Linked DNA regions of Homo sapiens: region 2 is linked to region 1. Evidence: fine-mapped expression QTL. A gene starts in region 1. The other region holds a variant in brackets. All regions are shown on one strand. Distances are between the middles of the regions. Region 1 holds the start of F13A1 (coagulation factor XIII A chain). Region 2 holds the start of LOC101927950 (a long non-coding RNA gene).

Evidence for each region. PIP is the estimated chance that this variant, and not a neighbour inherited with it, causes the effect.
Region 2: its variant is fine-mapped to the expression of F13A1 in monocytes after LPS (Fairfax 2014, PIP 0.95).

The regions. Positions count from the first base shown.
Region 1 is chr6:6,318,964-6,321,875 of GRCh38, reverse strand. It overlaps F13A1 (coagulation factor XIII A chain), which reads left to right and starts at 1,214. Exons shown (of 15, transcript NM_000129.4): 1 at 1,214-1,289. All of the region lies in intron 1 of LOC124901253 (a long non-coding RNA gene), which reads right to left.
Region 2 is chr6:5,693,217-5,696,128 of GRCh38, reverse strand. All of the region lies in intron 6 of FARS2 (phenylalanyl-tRNA synthetase 2, mitochondrial), which reads right to left. LOC101927950 (a long non-coding RNA gene) reads left to right here and starts at 857. Exons shown (of 4, transcript NR_110842.1): 1 at 857-984; 2 at 1,121-1,247. The variant A/G (reference allele first, on the strand shown) is at 1,649.

The sequences.
Region 1 (2,912 bases):
GAGGGAGGAGGGACCTTTCCAACTTCAGTAACAAGAAGAAAGAGGAAAAGATAGATAAGGTTGCAGGCAGGTTCATAGATTGGTAGCAGAAAATTGAGAGAATTTCTAACCAATGGCATCTTTTTTTTTCTTCTTTATAACATTGGGAGATTGAGTGGCAGGGTCAGAAATTTGAAGACAGTAAAGAAGGTTAGAAATAGCCATGTTTGACTGGGTGCGGTGGCTCACGCCTGTAATCCCAACACTTTGGGAAGCCAAGGAGGGTGGATCACCTGAGGTCAGAAGTTCGAGACCAGCCTGGCCAACATGGTAAAGCCCCATCTCTACTAAAAATACAAAAATTAGGCGGGCATGGTGGCATGCACCTGTAGTTCCAGCTACTTGGGAGGCTGAGGCAGAAGAATCACTTGAACCCGGGAGGTGGAGGTTGCACTCCAGCCTTTGCAACAGAGCAAGACTTCATCTGAAAGATAGAAAGATGAAAGAAAGAAAGAAAGAAAGAGTAAAAGAAAAAAATTAAAATTTTAGGGGGAAAATTTTCTAATTTTTGAACATGCACTAAAATGATTTTCAGAGAAAACCAAGTGTTATTTTCTAATCTGCATGGCATTATTAAAGATGTTTACTCATCTTCCTTGGGGCTAGGCATCCCATTCCTGCAGGAAGTCTTGTGGTTAGGCGGTGGCTGTGGCTCTGGGATGATTCAGGAATGCAGACCATGCCTTATTTGCACAGGAGGGACACGTTGCTCTCACTGCATGCATGGTCACAACTGTCTGTGTGACCTGTCTGTGGGAGGGCAGACCCCCCTCCTGCCAAGCCACAGTAGCAGCTGACCTGCCAGGCAAAAGCATTCCTTTGTAAAGGAAACCCTCCCAGACCCTCTGACCAAAGGGGACGGGTGGGGACTTCCTGGCACTGCAGGGCCCCTTGCCTGGTACTCCCAGCAACTGGTTGCGGTGGGGAGGGCAGATCTAGGGATGGGGATGGGGAGGAGAAGTGGGAATGGGAAATTGGGAGTCAGAGGGGCAAGTGGGAGAGAAGGGCGCACCTGCCGGGATAACAGGCCAGATGAAGTAAATAGAAAATCCTCTGAGCTCCCCTACTGGCTCCAGCTGTGGAGAAGGGGGAGGAGAAAACCCTGTGGGACAGGGGAGGAGGGTGAGGGCTCCTCTTAGGAAGTTATTTAAGAGCCAACTGTCTTGTCTTTCCCGAGTCCGTTTGAGGAAGTCCCCGAGGCGCACAGAGCAAGCCCACGCGAGGGCACCTCTGGAGGGGAGCGCCTGCAGGTAAGCCACCGACCCTGCACCCTATGAGCCAGGGCCCGCTGCGTCCACCTTCTGCACCTCGGTTTCCTGGTTGAACCAGCAAGCGGCTTGCTCTGGGCCCTGTGGCGCCGGTCACAGGCAGCTCCACTTGCCCAATCCTGGCTTCCCGCCCCCAACTCCGCACCTGCCCAGCCCAGCTTCTAAGCGGGACTTCTCTCAGGCTCTCGAGGCAGCTCTCCCGAAGCCGTTGCTTGCTTAGAATGCCACCAAATGGGGATGGGGGAGTTGGAGGTGCTTCCCCAAGGGACGAGCCCCCTTTCCTCAGGGAGCAGATTATGGAGCTGGAACACAAAAGGTGGAGGGAGTGGGGCCAAGTGAGAACAGCCTGCTAGACTGGAACCCCGCCGGCTTGGCTCCCCACTCCTGCGCGCCTCCCCACTCCTGCGCATCGCCTGCCTCCGTCCCAATTTGGAGCTGAACTCGAGCCACTTCTCCTCCTTAGACCCGCCCAGAAGCGAGGGCTCCTGCCCGCCGCACTCACCCAGCCAGGCGTGCACCTGGGGCTCCCCCCTTCTCCCCCTTAGCACTGTGTCTCCCGACAGCGCGCCACACTGTTCTGCACCCCTGGCAATGCCGCAGCCTACCTTCGGTATTTCTCACTAGAGGATGGCTCTCGCAGCCTTCTCCCTATCATTAACCCTTTTTCGCTCTTCTCCCTCCCTTCCCCCGTCAGCTCACCAATGACTGTAAATATATTTATCTATACTTATGGATACCCATTCACACCTTATGCATCCAAACACTCCTGTCTCCTTCTCAGACCAGACACCTTAGGCGTGGTTGTCTTTTCTCCAGCATGTTGTTAGTGCTCCACATGTCTCTGGAACCATCTCTCTACTCTGGTGGCCTCTATAATGGGGACTCTTCACCTCTTGGGGGTGTGCCTGGTTTTTGAAAATAGCCAAGTCTCCAGGAGTCATGACTGGGTAATCCAGGGGATCAAGGGGGAACCTTCACTGGGCCCAGAAACAAAGTCCCCCTTCATTTGGTCATTTGGTCAACAAGTACTTACTGGGCACTGACCGTCAGGTGTGTGTTGTTTAAACTGGCTCAGTGCCTGCACAAGCTCCAAGGGAAGGGGAAGCAGGCTTGGGGAATGGGAAATGTTGGCAACCCTGACTTCTTAAGCCTATTGATAGCCCTATTGAAAATTGCATGCCCAACCTCTCCACCTCCTTATCCTCCTCCATGTGGCTCAATTTCCAAAGCAGTTCCTACCTCCTCACCCCTAAGTGGATTTACTTATGGCTCTTCTTGGGCTCCACCCTAACCCTATCAGACTATAATCTATCAGAGCAAACATTCTGTTTTGTTCTCTGATGTATCCCATGTACCTAGATCACAGCCTGGCATGTCATAGGCCCTCAATAAATATTGGTTGAATTAAATTGCAAATGTAAACGCTTTAGAAGACAACATTTGTCTGGACATGGTTGTGTGCGTTTATTCTTAAAAGTGACTTATAATCTCATAAATCTGTATGAAATGAACATAGATACAGCACATGCATATAACAGGAAACATTTCTTGCGAAGATGCTGCTGTAGGATTATGGAGGGTGGGGGAATCTGGGTCTCCAAAAAT
Region 2 (2,912 bases), 630 kb after region 1:
GATTTGCATGTCCACAGACAATGTAGATGGAGGGTACCTGTTGTCCTGCACGCTTGACAGCACTGAACATTATCCACTTCTAAAATCTTTGTCAAACCTACAGCTGAAAATGTCATTTGCAGCAAATAATTTGTATTTCTCTAATCATGAGTGAGGCTGAGCATCCTGTCCCATGTTCACAGCAGTCTGTATGTCTCGTGCTCACCGACTGTTGAAGAGTTTTTTGTTATGTTTTAAAAAATTGGCCTTTTATCACAGCCTGGCAGTCTCCTTCCCCACCCACTAGTTTGTTATACATTCCTGATCCAATTTTTTGGTGCGGTTTGTTGAGCAGAAGCCTTAAATGTTTACGTGGCTAAATTAATCACTCTTTTCCTTTATGGCTTCTGAGTTCCCCATTAGGTTTACTTTTCCAAGAAAGGAAGAACTGCTTCTAATTTAATCTCTATAATCAGCTGAGAGTAGTTGGAGAGGCTGGGTCCATTACTTATATATGGTGTGACCTTCTACAAGTTACTCATCCTCCCAGAACTTCAATTTCCTCATCTGTAAAATTGGGATAATAAAAGTGCCTTTAAAGGCTTCTCGTCAAGACCAAGTAAAATAATGTGGTTACAACTGAGTGCACGGCACACAGGAAGTGTTCAGTAAATGGTGGCTTTACTTCCCTGAGATTTTAAACACCATCACCACTTAACAGCTCCAGCAAATGAGTCACAGACATGTGGCAAATTCCTGTTTCTCTGGAAGGCAGAGAAAGCACTGGGAATGACAGCGTACCGCCCGTGGGCCAGTCCCTGGCTTGCTGTGGCACTGCCACAAATGCTGCTGTTGTGTAACTTCCTAGGAAGCAGGATTAATTCCTAGCATGGATCTTAAGTCACTCTGGGATCTAAGAGATGTTTCGATCATTCTGGGATTTATGCTTCTTGAAAAGGCTCAGGACAAATGGCAGTGAAGGCTACGTGGATACACAGTTTGTGGGTAAGCACAGCGTCATCACCTTAACTTTCATGAGAATGAAAAGAAGAAATTGCTCAAGAAAAAACCAGAATTGAGACAAGAAATACAAGTGTAAAAGCTTACATGGCATTTATATATATCTGTTTTTTTCTTTTAGAGATGGGGTCTTGCTCTATCACCCAGGCTGTAGTGCAATAGTGTGAGCATAGCTCACTGCGGCCTCGAACTCTTCCAGGGCTCAAACGATCCTCACACCTTAGCCTCCCCAATGGCCAGGACTACAGGTGCGTGCCAGCAAGTTTGGCTAATTTTTTTTTTTTTTGTAGAGGTGTGGGGGGTTCTCACTATGTTGCCAGGCTGATCTCAAACTCCCGGCCTGAAGCAATCCTCCTGCCTAGGCCTCCAAAGGGCTGGGATTATAGGTATGAGCCACTGCACCTGGCCGTTACATGGCATTCCATATAGGATTCCTCCTTTTTCAAATGAGAACTCATAGGCACTACACATTGCTGAGTCCTTTAGAACATAGAGAGAAATATATACACCTGGTTGAAGGTCGTGCTGAATATTCACACTCGGTCTCTTATCTGATTCTATTTATCATGGCTAAATAGGTAAAAAATATATAAAATATAAAAACTCCTCCAAAGAACTCAATTATTTAAAAAGCTGCTTACTTTAACAG[A/G]GAACAGAGTCAAACTTTAACCAATTCTTATATGAAGGAATCTACTTTCCCCATAATTTCTAATCAATGTAACCTTCTATTATTCAGGAAAAAAGGTAGCCTAGATCTAAGGTATCATGATGTAACTGATTCAGAGTGGCAGTAGCTTTTTTGGTTGAATTTCAATTTCCAAATAGCTAGAAAACACTCCTGTTGGCTACCTGTTGTTAACTTAGCATCAAGACTGCTGCTCAGGTACCAGGCCTAGCATACACTGACCTTAGCTACTATAAGAAATGCTAAGGATTAGCTATATTCCTATTAACATGTTTTCAGATGTGTTTTCACCAGAGAACTCAACTTGTTTATTTCCTACAGAAACCTCTACATAGAGCACAGCACAATCTCTCAAATACAGCAGCAATGCTATCATCCAACTTACATGATCTTCCAGTGCGGCTTTGACAATCCTCCCTTTGAGAGGCGCAGGCTATGACCTCTTGCCTTGAAAATGGGTGGGCTTTTATGACTGCTCCCGCTAGTAGAGGGCGGTGGAAATGATGCTATGTGACTTCTGAGGCTAGGTGACAAAGATAGCGGAGCTTCCACCTGCTGACTTGCACACTTGCTACCATATAAGGAAGCTAACAATTCAGAAGACACTGCAGTAAGGAAGGCCAGGCCGCTTGGAGAGGTGAAATGTTCTCCAGCCATCACCCCAGCAAGTCCCAGCAGCCAGCCAGCGTCCAGTGCCAGATGTGTAAGTAAAGATGCCTCATCCCAGCCTAGCCAAGCAGTCACTCCCAGTCTTCGAGTCTTCCCAGACAAGGCCCCAGCATCACAGAATGGAGACAAGGACACGTGAGCACAATAAAATCAGTGCTTTATGTCACAAAGTTTTGAGGCAGTTTGTTACATGGCAATAGATAACCAGATTTTTACTCTAGGTTTACTTGAAAACAGGCCACCTTGCAACTGCTAAGGATAAATGATTCCCCAAAGCAGTGCAAAACTTCTGCAGAACAATGCAAACGCATTAGCCGCCTTGCCCATTAATATCCTGCTCAGCAGCCACGCTTTGGGAGGCAGTCGTTCATCTCTCCCTCCCTACATCAAAGCTAAGCAATGGATTCCCCATAAGTCATCAGGCTGCTCCAGGATTAGTGGTGAGGGGGCAGATCTGGTGAGGGTTTTCTGAAAATAAAGTAAAATATTTAGATCATTTTGCAAGTTGCTTTTCAGATGCCACATTTTTCTCTTTCATCTGTTCCAGCTGACAACGTGT